Regions from separate parts of the Homo sapiens genome. Here region 2 is linked to region 1. Evidence: fine-mapped expression QTL. A gene starts in region 1. The other region holds a variant in brackets. All regions are shown on one strand. Distances are between the middles of the regions. Region 1 holds the start of ACSF3 (acyl-CoA synthetase family member 3). Region 2 overlaps ACSF3 (acyl-CoA synthetase family member 3).

Region 1 (8,326 bases):
CTCCACAGCTGTTCAGAGGCAGGGCAGTGGCTGGTCCGCCCACACACCTGGACTCTGCTACCATAGAGAAACCCAGAGAATGGCAAGAAAACAACTGGGCTTCACCAGACACAAGACACGAGATCGGCACGTGGGCTGTGCCAGCTTCAGAAAGCAGCAAACCAGGGCGGCCCCACCACGCTTCCTTCCTCACTTCCAACCGATCCTGCACTGCTTTACAGGTGTGAGGGCACAGAAACAAGGAGAATCCACACACAGAAAACCGACTGGGCACTGGGTGCTCTGGGTTACGGCCCCGAGGCCAGACTTCCGCTGCTGAGAGCCACAGGGAGTGCCTTGGGTGCTCGGAGCAGGGGACGGTGCTTTCTGGGGTGCTAAGGAGCGGAGCACTAGGACGGCCGGCGACACTCACTCAATATAGAAGGTGCCTGTCATTGTGTGTAGCTGTTTCTCAATATGACAGAAGCACATAAAAGGGGGATGACGGCTTCCCTCTAACTAAAGCTGCTGCTCAGAAAAGGTTTCTGCAGACCACAAAGAACCGAGTTCTGACAAAGCGAGTTCAAGCTCGTGCTGTGCACACGGTAACCACACGCTGAGCACACGCTAACCACACGCTGAGCACACACAGCACACACTACCAGAGCACAGCCCCCCTTTTGGCATTTCTACAAATTCCTGAGTCACCCCGCAGGGCGAAGCCACGGAAGAATAAGAGTGGATTCCCCACAAAACCCAGAGCTCAGCAGAGCTGGTGATGCTGACGTGCACAGCTGGGCTGGGCAAACTCAAAGTGCAGGCTGAGAAGAAACTGCTGTTCTCCTGCGCGGAATCCAGAGCGCTGCCTGTGGGTGGGCACTCCTGCCACCAGCCCCTGGGAGGTGACAGATGTGACTGGCCCCGTGTGACATGGTCCCAGCTCCCAGAGAGCCCACGCGCTATGAGGAGAGGCCACGGGCAGGAGGAACGGACGGGGGCCTGGTGGGGAGGCTTCCTATGGAGGGTGAGAAGGGCCTGGCCTAGCCAGAGTCGGCCGAGGGAAGGGGGGAGTCCTGGCACCTACAGCTGTGTTCACTCGGGGTGTCTAGGGCACAGATGCCGGGAAGTCACATTGCTGGGTCATCTTTAATTTTGAGAAATACTGACAAAGTCCCCTCCAACGAGGTGCTGATTTATTCTCCCACCAAGCATGTGGAAAACGGAACCAGCCCCATCAAACCAGCTTTTCAGTCCCTCAGGCTTGGGACAATGAAGTGCCCAGTCATCAGTTCTCTTCAGCACAGAGGTTGAATCTTCACGGTCATCGGATCAGAGCCCTGCCTCGAACACGCAGACAGAGCCTACTCAGGGCAGATGGCTGTGCGCGGTCTTCCTGCACACCTCCCGGTCCAGAGGCACCCCAGCTTCCTCAGAGAGAACCTCACCTTTCAACCACTGGGACCCCTTCTACCGTGGGGCTCCCCATCACCACCAGGAGCACAGTGTGGAGGGACACTGCCCACCAGACAAATGCAGTTCAGTCAGGGGCTTCCACCCTCAGCCAGCTTCATACCCCTGCTACGCAGCACCCTGATAACCCGAGGTCAGCGGCGTCACCACGTGGCTGGGCAAGGACTCTAGTCAGAAGCTGAGAAAGGTGCCTGAGCCAGGACAGCCTCCTTGGTGAAGGCGTACTGGAACCACTGAAAACAGTGGCTCTCCAGCCCTCGGGGAGGGAGGCAGGACCTCTCGGTGTTCTAGCCATCAGGTTCTGAGATCAGACCACTAAGGCACTGGGGCTTCTCGGGAACACACATGCAGCGCAGCGGGATGCATCTTTTCCCTCCTAACTGGAGTGCTGGTTAATGGCAGAGTTAGTCACCACAGGCTTCGACTTGAACGGCTGCTGCCTTTGTCCTCATTTCCTCACTGGCCTAGCCCTTCACTTCCCACCGCTAAGATGGCACAGTAACAAGACCTGCCTCACAGGCTTCACGTGAGAATGTACGAATGGCCCGGCACAGGCCAGGCAGAAGACAAACGGCCGCGCCGTGCTCAGCAGGGTGCTCCCCATGGAGCCTCGCAACAAAAATTACTAGATGAGAATGACACTCGCATTCAAATGAAGGGCTGCTTTCAACATGAATAAAACGACACCTGACCTGTTCACCACCACACCTGACACCCCCGCCCCCCCAGACCTTGTGTTTGAAGTGGATGCCGGCACTTCCTCCTGTCGGCTGCCCCGATGAGAGCGTGGGGCAGAGGAGGGCTGTGCTCGGCCTGCGGGGCAGGATGCGTTTCAGCATCACACCTGTGGTTTGGAGGGTTATTTTCAAAATTACATTTTTAAGTAACAGACATTCACATTGCATTCATGAGCAGTACATTCAAATAAAAAAAACCAAAAAGGAAAAATACACTTGAAACCCATATCCATTTTAGGAAGAAAAATACTATTTTAAAAATGCCATCTGGAAAGGTGACACTTACAACTATCCCAAGCCCACAGTTTAATCCGCCATTTCTGTCTGCCTTGAGGAGATGGTTCAGAGCCAAAGGAGCAAGAGCAAGGGAAGCCTCATCTTATGTCCTCCAACACCTGCGGAGAGGACACCAGCCTGAGCCAGGCTTCACGCTACAAAGCTCGCAGGGTCCCCAGGGTCCACCGGTAGTAACACCCGTGCTCCTGGGTCCACCATGTGAACCCCCTCCTCAACAAGGTCTCAGCCTTGGGCCCTAACACGAATGTCTGTCCTCCCAGGATGGGAAAGCAACAACTATGCCCCAGACACAATTCGTGTTCCTATCTCTAAACGTGTTCCCTTTCTAGCAAATTCCTAATCATTCTTCCAAGCCCAGTTCAAATATCACCTCTTCTTTTTCAGTTTTATTATTTATTGAGACAGTGTCTTGCTCTGCCACCTAGGCTGGAGTGCAATGGTGCTGTCATGGCTCACTGCAGCCTCCGATTCCTGGGCTCAAGAAATCCTCGTGCCTCAGCCTAACCAGTAGCTGGAAGTGCAGGTGTACGCCACCACACCCAGCTAATTTTTACATTTTTTTGTAGAGATAGGGGTCTCACCATGTTGCCCAGGCTGGCTTTGAACTCCTGGCCACAAGTGATCCTCCTGCCTCTGCTGCCCAAAGCGCTGGGATTACAGGCATGAGCCACTGCACCTGGCCTGCCTGGTGGAATTTAGACTCAGGACAGCAACATCAACTCCTGACTGCACCGGGCCTCACCCCTTTAAACCTTCCCTCTCTCCAGGGAATGGGCTGCCTGCAGTACCTTCCAAATACTTCACGGCCGGCCGCACGTCTCCATTGCTTGCTCATAGATCTACATGCCCTCAGGGGCTAGGCCGGCTGTGAACCTGTGCCCCACGCGCCCAGCAAGGTGCACGCAGCAAACAACTAAAACGGGGAGTACTTCAAGGGTGACTTCTGAAGCCCAATGAGAAATGGAAGTGAATTTATTCCAAACACAACCAAAGACGATTCGTTCTGAGGATGCCTGAACACGGACCCCGCCGGCTCGACGGTATCACCGGGCCCGGCGTCCGCACAGCTTCTCTCCCCGCACCCCGCGCGGGGGCCCCGCTCCCCACCGGACACGAGAGGCTCGGCGTCCCGGGAAGGCCGACGCCCGGCCCCAGGCGGCTCGCGGGGAAGCGACCGCGCCACGGGCCACGGCTCAAGCCCAGCTGCGACCCAGGGGCGGGCGCCGGAGCCCGCGCCCCCGAGAGCTCTGCGCCCGGCCGACCCCGCCGCGGTCCCGTGGGCCCCGCCGCCCGCACCTACGAGACGGCCGCGGCCACGGGGCAGGATCTGCCTCGCCACAACTCTTCCTCGTCCTCCGCCGCGCGCGCGCCGGGGTCGGGCCGGGTTCCGGCCGGGTCCCGCGGGGTCGTGAGTCGGGCCGGACCAGTTCCGGCGCCCAACAGCTTCCCCGGCGCGGCGCGTCCGTCGCCCAAGCGCGTCCCCCCGGCGCGGCGCCGTGGCGGCGGGTTCCGGGCGCGCGTGTTCCCCTGTCCCGCCCGTCCCGTCGTGGCGGGGTCGGGGCCGCGGGCGTCTCGTGAGCCGTGGCCGAGGCAAGGCGCCGTGGTCTCCGCTAGCCCAGGGCTGCCCAGATCAGAACGGCGCGCGGGACCACTCCCAACGCGGATTGCTGGGCCTCGCCCCGTCCTCCCAAAAGGGGCTCTCTGGGCTTTGCGGCTGGGGGTCTGCACGCTGAGCTCCTGGGTGATTTTATTATTATTATTATTGTTGTTACTTTTTCTTATTATTATTATTATTTTGAGATGGAGTCTCGCTCTGTCGCCCAGACTAGAGTGCAGTGGTGTGATCTCGGCTCACCGCAACCTCCGCCTCCCGGGTTCAAGTGATTCTCCTGCCTCAACCTCCCAATTAGCTGGGACTACAGGCGCCCGCCATCATGCCTGTCTAATTTTTGTATTTCTTGGGTGATTTTAAACGGACCGCATTTGAGAATCTCTCCTCGAAGGGACTTGGGAACCAGGATACGAATATGAAGCGAGACTGTTGGATGGACAGTGGCGGAAAACATTTAAAGCCAAACACAAAGTCCAGTTGGCTGAAATTTGAGGGTTTTTCCCCTAAAATGAATACTAATAACACAAAGACATGTACTGGCAAACAGTAGTACAAATTATCTGCAGAACCGTCCTGGTGTGATGGCTCACGCCTGTAATCCCAGCACTTTGGGAGGCCGAGGTAGGCAGATCACGAGGTCAGGAGTTCAAGACCAGCCTGACCAACATGGTGAAACCCTGTCTCTCCTAAAAATACAAAAATTAGCCGGGAGTGGTGGCAGGTGCCTGTAATCCCAGTTACTCGGGAGGCTGAGGCAGGAGAATCTCTTGAGCCTGGGAGGTGGCGACTGCAGTGAGCTGAGATTGCGCCACTGCACTCCAGCCTGGGCAGCAGAGTGAGACTGTCTCAAAAAAAAAAAAAAATTATCTGCAGAACCTTGCACAGTTTTTTTGTAAGTGTATTATTTTCCATGCCCATCTTCCTCTCTTGTGATGATTGCTGGGGCAGCAGTTGTGTCCTTGGAAAGCTCAGGAAAGGGCACTTCAGGAGCCCGAGGATGGTTTTCCTGGGAGGAAGGAGCTGGATCTGGGGGAAGTTTGTAACACAGAGCGTGGGAGAACAAACCCAAACTTCTAGTGCCTCTGGTTGCCACCCTGCTAGGTATCATGCAGAAAAAGCAAGTCCAACCCTCTGCCACTGGGACAGGCTTGATCTGGTGTCAGAATTCTGTCTGCTTCCAGGACTCAGCAGGCTGAATGGTGTTTCCGACGAGGGCAGTAGGAAGAGTAAGGAGGGCGTCTAACATCAGGATTCAGCCCCAGGACGTGTGTGCGCAAATTTCTATCCCTGGGAAGTTGAAGAGCTCAGGCTGCGTCACCCACCTAGAGACAGGACTTGGGACAGGGTGACAGCTCCCGTGGTCCTTGGCCATGGCTCTGTGAGGGTGGCAGTGGGGGGAGGGTGCAGTCTCCGAGAAATGGCCCAGTCATCCTATGAGCAGGGGTCCCATCTGTGCCTCGGCTCTGGTCAGCATCATAGTGGCAGGTGGGAAGCAGGAGCAGTCAGGGATTAGCAGACATTGGAGGACAGCCTCTAGCCAGAGAGACGTGGGCTGAAACAACCAGCAGAACAACTGCAGGCAGCCAGGCTGTGCAGAGTGAAGAGACCCCCAAAACCACCCCCTGTTAATACCCTCAGGGAGACAAGGGAAGCGACAGCCCCCATGAGTCCAGAGCGAGATGCCCCGAGAAAGAGCGTTCCAGTAACATAAAGGGGGGCTGGAGGGGTCAGAATACAACAGCCTGAGTAAAAACCCTAAGGGAAGGGCTAAAGGACGTCTCCTAGAAATAGAACAGAAAGACCGAGAGATGAAAAACAGGAGAGGAAAGATAAAAAAATCAGTGGGCTCAGGCAGGCATCCAATATGCTAAATACGGTAGTTTCAGGAAGGGAGGGCAGAGAAAACAGAGAGAAGTCAGCTGTCAGGTAAACTCGTGGACATTAGCAGACGAAGGGCTGCAGAACATCCAGCGCAGGGAGTGAAAGTGGCCGCACCAACCAGGCAGACGACGTCAATGTAGTTTAGAACATGTGGACAGGGAGGGTCCTAAGTGCCCACCTGGCATCTCACTGGGACATCCAAGAGACATCAGACCCCGATGTGGCCCCAGAGGAGCTCAGGTCTCCCCCGCAGCAGCGCCCCCACCCTCACACTTTGCATCTCACCCTCGATCCTGGGGTTCAGTCTATGGCTCCCTGCTTCCCTCCCACACCACATTGAGTCCTACTGGTTTCTCCTGCAAATTCTGTCAGAGACTGTCCCACCAGCGCTGCTGTAACCACCCAGACCAGGAAAGCCTTGTTTCCTAAAGGAGTCCTCACTGGATTCATGAAGAACCCAACAGTGGCTGGAGTAGCCCCATTAAAACCTGAGTGGGATCCTGCTCAGAACCCACAGGGGGTCCTGCCCAAGCCCTGTTGTGGCCACCAGGTCCCCGAGCCCCGCCCTCCTCCCCTCTGGCCTTGTTTCCTGTGACTCCCGGGAGTCCTGGCCTGGCAGGCAGGGGCAATCCCCCCGCGGGAAGATGGTGGACAGAGTGTCCTGTGTGTTTACCATGTTGAGAGGAGACTTGAACAATGCAAGCAAAGTTTAGGGATAGATGATCAATACATAGAAAACTAATCAAGAAAAATAAGGCAGAGATTAAACACTGGGAACACAGGAAGATGTGTTTGCCAGCAAAGGGCACGTGATCATGTTGCTGTAGGAGGCTCCGCTGTCCATAGCATTTACTAAACTACGATCATTTCAACATCTACAGTGTAACCATCAGCATGCAAAACTGCCGCTGATCGAACGAGTTTATCGCAGACGACGGGAGGGACCCGGGGTGGAAGGTGTGTGGTGTGGCCTGGGCAGGCCTGGCAGGAGACCACAGGAACCTCCAGGGGGTAAACACCAAGAGAATCAGAACAAAGGTTCACCTCTGGTGAGCAGGAAGGGGAGGGTAGTTCTTTAAACTTTGTGGACGTACAACTGATAAGTATAAAAGTTAAACTACACTATGAAATAGTTTTTAGAGGAAGAGGAAAGGAAACACTCCAGGTGACCACGTGAACTCGGCCACTTTCAGCTGGATTCTTGCCCCTGTTCCCTAAATAAACCAAGAGGATTCCGGGAAGTCGCCTTCCAGCAGGTGCATGTCATGGAGAGGAACAAGATGACTCTCCATGGGCCAAGCCTTATCATCGTGCCACCAGCTGCTACTGTCTAATACCAGACACGGAACACCCCCACGGCCTCTCCTGGCCTCCTGCCTTTCAGGAGACTCGCTGGCAGGAGTGTCTGTGCAGGTGCAAATGTGCCCTCAGGCACGTTCCCAGCACGAGGGTGCAGGTGGGAGGAGAAATACGTGCCGTGTGGTGATAAGCACAAGAGTGCTGCAGGAGCACACGGCCAGGACTTCAGACACGAGTGCCAGGGCCCCTCTCTGCGGTGCATGGAGCTGGGCTCTGAGGGCAGTGACAATGACTCTCGGGCAAAGGATTGCATTGTGCCGTTTTACGAATGAGGAAACTGAGGCTCGGGGAATTGATGTCACTTGTCCATGCTTACGTACCTAGAAAGCGGCCGAGCTGGGATTTGAAACCAGAATTTGGCATCCTTTACCCCCACCCCTGCCCCCAGACATGCCTCTCTTTGCATCGCTGTGAGATTCAATGAACAAATGACACCCCCCTCTGCTGAAAACCAAACTTTTCTGCATGCAACACCAGACCAACTCCTTCATAAAGAACAAATGATCTGCAAAGCTGGATCCTCAATGATGTTTGTGCCAGGGTGGTTTACAGCAGCCACAAATCAGGAAACAGCCTGGATATCCCAGCACAGACTTTAGTGAATCAGGAGATGGCCAAATAAGAGCGGCTCTGCAGCCATTAATCATGACGCCAAATAGAAACGTGGGAATTGTGTATGACGGTCTAATGTTGAATGAGAACCTCAAACTTAAAAATCAGCACACGAAGTTATCTGTGCACTGGGATCCCCAACTCTGCGGAAAGAAGGTCTGCAGGACCCCATGGAAGGGGATGCAGCTGCCTCCAAAGAGAACTCTTGCCTGGCTCCCAGCTCAGCCTTGTGGCACTGCCCACTGCAGCCTCCGGGCCTTGGCTTGGCGGGGAGCTGGCCCCCACGTGAAAGGGCTTTGAGCTAGGGAGGTCTAGGAGCCCCAGGGACTCACTGCTCCTGGGGCTCTCTGTGGCCCTCTCGCCTGTTCTTTGAGTTCAG
Region 2 (8,326 bases), 25 kb before region 1:
GCAGGGCAGCTGTACTCCACCTGCTGCACCGACTCCTTGGCTGAACTGGAAATGTTCCCGGGCCTGCTGTCAGCAGATGCAAACCCCCCGTACGCTGAGATTTAAGCAGCCCCAGAGCATCTGTGCGGCTTCACCTTGCAGGGTCTGCCTGCATGCCTGTCGCAGAGGCCCCTGTGCGGTGTCTCTGACTGTCAGGGTGCCCAGGTAGCTGAGGCTGCTGCTTCTATTTCAAGACTGCTTCAGGGAAGAAACCAGCAGACACAAATAATTAAAGAAACTCAGGCAGGAGCAATCAGGTGGCGCGGCAGCCAATGCAGGTGTGAAGCAGTTAAGTTTTGTTTTAATTTAAGACAGAAATGCTCCCCACCCCCGCTCCGCCCCTTTCTCTGGCAACATTTCTGCCATTTCCGGCAGAGCAGGTGCTCAGAGGCAGGAGTGTCAGCTGACTGACACCTGGAGAGGGCTGCACAGCCACGGGGCGTCTCACTCCTCCACACGCCACTCACGTTCTGCTCTCTGCTGGGGACATTTCTGACTAGATGGTGTCCCCAACCCAGGCACAGGCTGAGCCCCGTCCCTGCAGACAGGGTTGGAACTGGCTGAGCTGGGAGGTCCTCGAGTTGGGGGCAGGGGCACTGCAGGGCACAGACTTGAGAGCCAGGAAGGGCCGGTGTATTCAGGAACCTGAGATGTGGGGTGTGGCCAGCAGCCTAGTACCAGCAGGGCAGAGGCAGGAATCCCAGGAGAGGCATGTCAGGACAACAGCATGGGCTGGGGCCCTACAGAGGGCAGGGGAGGTGGGTATAGCAAGGGGCAGCCACCCAGGTGGGTTTCAGCAAGTTGCCCCATGGCTCTGTGGGGGCCACAGGGATAACAGCCCACTGCGGGGGGCCCAGGCCAGGCGGGACACACTGTGCGGCCCTCCACACAAGGTGCGGCCACTGCAGGTGGCCCCAGGTGAGAGGTTTCCATGGGGAAACAGAATACCCACTTCAGGGCCACGGGGGATAACAGCCCACTGCGGGTGGCCCAGGCCAGGCGGGACACACTGTGCGGCCCTCCACACAAGGTGCGGCCACTGCAGGTGGCCCCAGGTGAGAGGTTTCCACGGGGAAACAGAATACCCACTTCAGGGCCACGGGGGATAACAGCCCACTGCGGGGGGCCCAGGCCAGGCGGGACACGCCGTGTGGCCCTCCACACAAGGTGCGGCCACTGCACCTTTCAGTGTCATTTAATGACACTGAAAGCCACCCACATCCTACTTGGTTGCTGGAGCTAAAACGTCCAACCACGACCATCGCTCCAACCCTCACGTGGTCATGTGTGGAAACCAAGGTACAAGGAGGGCGTGTGGCTGTTCACTCACGAGAGCAAGGCCCACGGCCCCTCAGCCTCTGCACAGGGAGCTCAGTTGTGCCCGTGAGGGCCAAGATGGTGTCACAGAGAAGGAAATGCACAGAGATGAGACTCAGGATCCCTCGATCTTTGAAAACCTCAGGGCAACACAGTCAATCATGTGTGGTATCAGGTGTGGATACTGGCTTCAGAGAAAATAATTTCCTTTTAAATCAAGATTCCATTTCCCCATAATCCCTAAACCTTTCTCTGTGATGAGTTCACGTGTGATGAGCAGACTCTCATGTTAAAATCCTCACAGAAATGAGACAATGTCCTTTGTTCTTGTTCACCCTTGTCAGCTTTAGAATAACGCACAAGACAAGGAGGCAGCCACAGAGCACTGCACAGGCACCCACCTCCGCGTGCAGGGCCCCGTGAATCTCCCCACACCTACTATGGGGGCCTGTGGTCAGCGTCCCCTCAGGACGGGTGCCAGGGTCAGGCCAGTTCATATTTCTAACCAGATTCCCATCAACAACAACGGCCTCTGCTCTTTATCTCTTCCGCTTAGCCAAGGCCATCATGGCCCACGTCAGCCTGTCCCCGTGGACAGGGCCCCTGGGAGGAGCTGTGTGCCCGGGTGTGAGTCCCTTTGGCGTTCCGCCCTGGGCTCCCTCTGCCCACTGCTCTGTGAACGCACAGACGGACACGCAGCAGGCAGGGCCCAGAACACCAGCCAGTGCCCTTGCAACACCAGCCAGCACCTGCAGTGTCCAGGGGGCTGGTCCCCTGCGTGGAGGGGAGTCTGCCTCCAGGGGAAAGATGCACCAGTGTAACCACCCTGGGGGGCCTAGACTGGACACACGGCCGCCCACCTGCCAAGAGCAGAGTGGCTTACCTTGGTCCCCCTCTCGTCTCCCTCTGCGTGGATGGTGTAGGAGCAGGCTTCCCTCTGTGGGTTTTCTGAGACAATGCGCACCTGTACTCCAGGCAGTGGGGTCCCCACGGAACCTACAGGAGAGGAGAAACACTGAAGGGGAGGCTGGAGTGAGAGGAACCTGGAGGAGAGAAGCACACACTGAGCTCGGATCCCGCTGAGCTCCCGTGTGCCACGTGCGGGAGTCTGTGTGGAGGGAGCGACGTGCCCTGTGACCCAGAGAGAAGATGGTGTAGGCACCAGCAGGTGAAAAGCCACACGATACGTGGCTGGCAAGCACGGTGTGCTCAGGCCCAGCCGATGCCACAGTGATGGCCATGTGGCACAGCAGGCACTCACGTGGCACGCTGGGCCTGGCCTGCCCTGGGCCCCTCATACATCACTTTCCCAGTTACTTCCCAAAGCCTCACAGCTGCCCACAGATTCTGGTGTCATTCCCACTTTTACACACTTGCTGGCCAGGGAGGGCTGGCGCCTTGCCCTGATGGCCCCGGGGCTGTCCACGATGAGGGGACCTGTGTGTGCCCGGCACACGACGGGCTAAGGCAGGATCTGCCCTATGTCCCCAGGAGGGGCTGTCCTGAACTCTGCATGGCAGGTGGACCACACTTTGTACTGGCTCATTTATTAGACACCCATGATTTGCTCAGTGTATCCATCCCACCTGCACAGTCTCAACGTGGCTAAAATCATATCTTACACTGGCCGGGGTGGGGGCAGAGCCCAGGTGGCGAGACGTGTCCCGCCGGCACACGCAGGGCTGCCGCAGCCTCGCTCTGCCTGTGGTTTAGGTTGCTGGTGGGACGGCAGAGGCTGCTCATGGAGTGCGGCCCTGGCGATGTGGCGTCAGCACGGGCATGACCTAGGGGCAGAGCAGACGTGGGACTTCCTGTCTATCCCGGGGCGTGAGGCCTTTGCCCTGGCCTGCGTCAGGGGAGTGCCTGAACGCTTATCATGTCTGAGTCCACGCTGAGATTTCCGGCACTTCAAGGGTCAGCATCGAGGGTCAGTGCAGTGAACTCTGCAATCCATGGGGCGTCCCGGCCTCCAGACGCTTGGTGAGGGGCTGTCGGTGCCCGGCTCGGTCTTGCTGATCCTGCTGGGCCTGTCCACACCTGGGGTCCTGCAGGCGAAGCCGGGCTAGTGTGGTGTGCGGAGTGTCACCTCGGGAGTTCTCTGTGGTTCCAGGTATGCAGACGCCCCGAACCTCCACTCTGGTCAGAAACCCGTGTCACCACTATGGGGGGTGTGGCGGGGCCAGCTTCAGCCCCCTTTCTTCCATCCTTTCTCCTCCTTTATGTTTTGCTTCTGAAGATTTTTAAATGGGGGTGAAACCCGCATAACACATGACTTCCCATTTCAGTGCGCGGCACGGCGGTGTTCCGCACACACATTGCACAGCCCCCCACTTCCCCTAGTCAGAACTCCCGCACAGCCCACGACCGCCACACCCTCCCTCCCCAGACCTGGCACCAGGTCTGCTGTCCGCGTCCGTGGTTTTTCTGTTCTGGGCGTTTCATAAGAAGAGGACCATCACAGGCGGCCTTTCGCCTCTTCCTGGTGATGCCTCTACTGGGGCGGGGACGCAGCGCAAGGACACGGCACGGCTGGGGTAGGGGCGGGGGCCGCAGGTGGGGAGGCCGTGTGGCCGTCCCACACCATCTGCAGAGGCTGAAGAGGCTCTGGGATGGTGTCTGGATTCTGCAGCAGCCAAGCAGTGGTATTGTCCATGAGAGCTCAAGGAGTGGCCCCCACACTCCAGGTGCCGCCCGTGAGAGCTTCAGGGAGGGGCCCCCACACTCCAGGTGCCACCCATGAAAGCTTGAGGCAGGGGCCCCCACACTCCAGGTGCCACCCGTGAGAGCTCGAGGGAGGGGTCCCCACACTCCAGGTGCCGCTCGCTGTGCCCCGGGCATGTGACAGTGTGGACATGAGAGCTCAAGAGAGTGGACAGAGGCTGGCCCCGCAAAGGCCAATGTAGATGGGAGCGCAGCTGCAGGCAGGTGGGGGGCACTGCCTTCCTGCCACAGCCCACCTCTAAAATCGCTGTCAGCCAGCCCCTCCCTGATAACTCTGACTGGGGACTGGGACCCAGGGAACGGAAACC[G/A]CCAATGAGGCCCTGGAGCTCCCTGTCAATGCCACAGAGTGGCCCAGGAGCCGTGAGCACCTCTGAGCTCAACCTCCAATTAGAGTGTGACGAGGCCCAGCAGTGGTCGGCCATGAATTATTCATCTCCCTCCACAGGAACCGCACGGAGCAGGCCTGTAACCATAACACACGACAGAGCTCACCCTCCACCCAGCTTCTCTCTCTTCCGAGCACGGACAGTGCACTGAGCAGCGAGGCCAAGCATGAGCTCAGAGCCTGTGGCTGGAGCCGACCCAAGGGTCAAGGCCATGGCCACCAGGGTGGGGGTTAGAGCCTGAGAGTGAGGAAAGCTCTCCTCCACCGTGCCCTCTAGAAACATGGCTCAGGAGGCTGCATTTTGGAGTTTTTGTGGGGCATATTGGATTTAATGCTGAGGTGACTTTACTTACTTTTTTCCAAACCAAAGAACTCACACTGCTGGTGATTTAAAGGCAAGGATAAAATCACAGATATTTGATTCTGCCTTAGAGAAGAGGGAGCGTCCCCGGCGCCCCAGGGAAACTGCCGTATGCTCTGCCTTAGAGAAGAGGGAACATCCCTGGCGCCCGAGGGAACCTGCCGTCAGGCTCTGCCTTAGAGAAGAGAGAGCGTCCCCGGCGCCCGAGGGAATCTGCCGTGGGCTCTGCCTTAGAGAAGAGAGAGCGTCCCCGGCGCCCGAGGGAACCTGCCGTGGGCTCTGCCTTAGAGAAGAGGGAACGTCCCTGGCGCCTGAGGGAACCTGCTGTGGGCTCTGCCTTAGAGAAGAGGGAATGTCCTTGGCGCCTGAGGGAACCTACTGTGGGCTCTGCCTTAGAGAAGAGGGAGCATCCCCGGCACCCGAGGGAACCTGCCGTCGGTAGCTGAAGACTCGGGGATTGGTGCACTCAGGTTTCTTGCCCAATAACCCTGAAGCTTCAGGGTCTCTGGATCCCCCTCCTCAGCCGGGGACTCCTCTCCCTGTGCCATCTGTCTGGGGCTCCTTCCTGTTCGCCTAGGAGTTCTGATTCCAGCGTGGGGAAGCTGAGCCTCCCCTGGGTCTCTGGGCTACTATCTGCTCCTTGGCGCCCTCGGTGTGGACGGCGGTCCCTGGGCTGCTCCTTGGCGCTCTTGGTGTGGACGGCGGTCCCTGGGCTGCTCCTGACGCTCTCAGTGTAGACAGTGGTCCCTGGGCTGCTCCTGACATCCTCGGTGTAGACAGCAGTCCCCGGGCTGCTCCTGACTCCCTGGGTGTAGACAGTGGTCCCTGGGCTGCTCATGACTCCCTCGGTGTAGACAGTGGTCCCTGGGCTGCTCCTGATTTCAGCTTCTCAGCCTTGTATCTGTTCCAGTAAAAAAGGCTAGGGGGGCACTGTCCATCTTCTCTAGTGAGGGCCATTGAAGAGGTCACCGTGCTCCTGGGAAGTGCATCACTCACCAGCCGCGTGACCGTGGGCAGGCTCATGGGTTCTTGTATGTGAGTGCAAAATATGACCCCATCGCAGGGGCTGTTTCGAGAAGATCAAAAGAGAGGACGCCCACAAAGCAATGCTGTGGATGAACAGTCATCATGAACTACAAACTGTGCAGACAGATTCTGAATACACAGAACTTGTCCTGCTCACATGTCCGGAACAAAGAGAGGACAAAGCCCAGAGCCCGTTACCCTTTCAGTCCTCACTTGCCTGCAGCCTGCAGCCTCAGCGAGCCGGGCTTTGCTCATTCCGTCCATATTACGTGGTGACTGTGGCCGGTGGCACTGGACAAAACCAGCACATCCTACTAAGAAGGACAACGATAAGGACAGAGACTCAACAGACCAGTCACATTTGATTTCAAGGTCCCCATCTTATTTCCACCAGAGAGCTTTAGCCACCGAAGAAACAGCTGGTGCCGCAGCCATCGTGGAGATGCGCGAGTCAGCCCAGAGCAGGGGCCGCTAGCACTGACGGAGGTGGAGGTTTCCTGGGGTCTGAGACTAACGCGGGAGCCGGCCCAGGGCAGGGGCCACCAGCACTGACGGCGGTTTCCTGGGGTCTGAGACTAGGATGTATTTCTCATCACTCACACTGACTTCTTTTCACAACATGCCCCCACCCGCCCACTGCCCTGGGCACTGTTGCAGCAGGCACTGCACTCTGTGCGGCCACCCCACTGGCAGCTCTGCACGGCAGCTGAGGATCTCGCTGCCATGGCCCTGTCATTCTGCTCAGGATGCCCCAGCCAAACCGAGACTTTACACTCAGAATACACTTAACAGCCCCCATGGCTCCCCAGGCCCAGCAAAGGGGCGTGAGCCTACAGTCTCTCCTCCTCCCAGCCCAGCAGCCAGCCAGCCCTCACACTCACCTTGCAGGCCCCAGCACCGTATCGCTGCCTGGCACCAGCTGGTCCCTGCCTGGGCCTGAACCCCCATGTCCACGCTTACCCTAGAGTCCCAGGAACCAAGCAGGCATGGAATGAGCCAAAGGGCACACGGAAAGCAATGGGACAGAGCAGAGCCCAGGAGCCGACCCCTCAGGAGTCGACGGACTTTCAACAAAGATCCAAAGGGCTGTTCGATGGAGAAGGGAGTCTTTTCAACGAACAGTGCTAAAAAGTTAGACATTCACACACTAAAAAAGAACTGTGGTCCGTATCTCGCACTATGTACAAACATTAACTCAAAATGGATCATGGTCCCAAACGTAAGAGCTGAAACTATTCTCTGTGACTTTGGGCTACGCAAGGATTTATTAGATATGACATCAGACAATTCACAAAACAAATTGATAAACCGGGCCAAAACCTAAAACTCCTGATTTTAAAGACGCTGTTAGGTGAATGGGAAGACAAACCACAAGCTGGGAGATGATATTTAAAATCGCACAGCTGACACTTGGGTCCCGAATTTTAAAAGCTCTCAAAACTCAAGAAAACAAAGGCCCCAGTTGAAAACGGAATGACACGAACAGGAAGAGGTGCTCAACGCCACCCATCATGAGAGAATCATGAACTCAACGAGACACCACCACCGCCCGCTGGAGCAGCAGGTGCTCGTGACCTCCCACCCATTGCAGGGGGAAGGGGATGGTGTAGCCGCTCTGGAGAACAGCTTGAAAGCTTCAGACAACACAGCAATCTCTCTCCTAGGTATCTGCCCAGGTGAAATAAAAAACCACGTTCGCACAGAAACCTGCACACAAATGTTGATAACATCTCACGTGTCATTGCTTAAAACAGGGTCACAAGCGGTGCCGCACCCACACCACGGATGCCACTCAGCAGGGAAAGGCGCGGGCTCTGACGCACACAGCACAGGCAGTTGACTGTGGGCGGAAGCCGGGCGGAAGCAGACAGGCTCAGAGGCCACGTCCTGCAGGATTTAGCCACGTGGCCTCCCAGAAAAAGCAAAACCACAAGAAGAGAAACAGGAACAAGGGGCCAGGCCTCGGGGGTGGAGGAGGTGCTGAGCACTAGGAAGGGAGTTTCTGAGGCGAGGAACCCTTCTCTATTTTGACTGTGATGATGTTTCTTAAGACACACAGAGCTGCACGCCAGAGGGGTGAATTTTTACTGGGTCTGCAGGTAAGCAGCTGCACAGACAGATGTGCGGGATGGTCTCACTTTAAGTCTGCACTGAGATCTCTCTTCTACTCTAGACAGACTGGAAGGGCTGCGCAGAAAGCAGCAGGGTGGCCCCCCAGCTGTGGGCTCTGTTCCCAGAAGTCCCAGCGGAGGACCCAGGGCTCAAATGGTTGGGTCAGATGAAAGTCAGAATGGGATGTGTTAGGGAAGGCTGGACAAGAGGGGCCCGGTATCAGGAGCCCACATCTAGAGAAGGAAGACAGGTGCTTGACTCATCCCACCCTGCCCACCACACCCACCTCTCCTGGCACTGCTGCTGGCGCTGTGTGGCACCCGGACTCCAGACAGACGGAGGCTGCCACCACTGCTGATGTGGTC

Evidence for each region.
Region 2: its variant is fine-mapped to the expression of ACSF3 in whole blood (TOPMed, PIP above 0.99).

What each region holds. Positions count from the first base shown.
Region 1 is chr16:89,089,450-89,097,775 of GRCh38, reverse strand. It overlaps ACSF3 (acyl-CoA synthetase family member 3), which reads right to left and starts at 3,924. Exons shown (of 11, transcript NM_001243279.3): 1 at 3,780-3,924. RefSeq lists enhancers at 1,752-1,921, 3,141-3,330 and a silencer at 3,751-4,160.
Region 2 is chr16:89,114,827-89,123,152 of GRCh38, reverse strand. ACSF3 (acyl-CoA synthetase family member 3) reads right to left here. Exons shown (of 11, transcript NM_001243279.3): 7 at 2,240-2,352. Among named protein-coding and RNA genes, the nearest start is that of ACSF3, 25 kb to the right of the region's middle. RefSeq lists enhancers at 4,338-4,632, 7,987-8,326 and silencers at 4,338-4,632, 8,298-8,326. The variant G/A (reference allele first, on the strand shown) is at 4,386.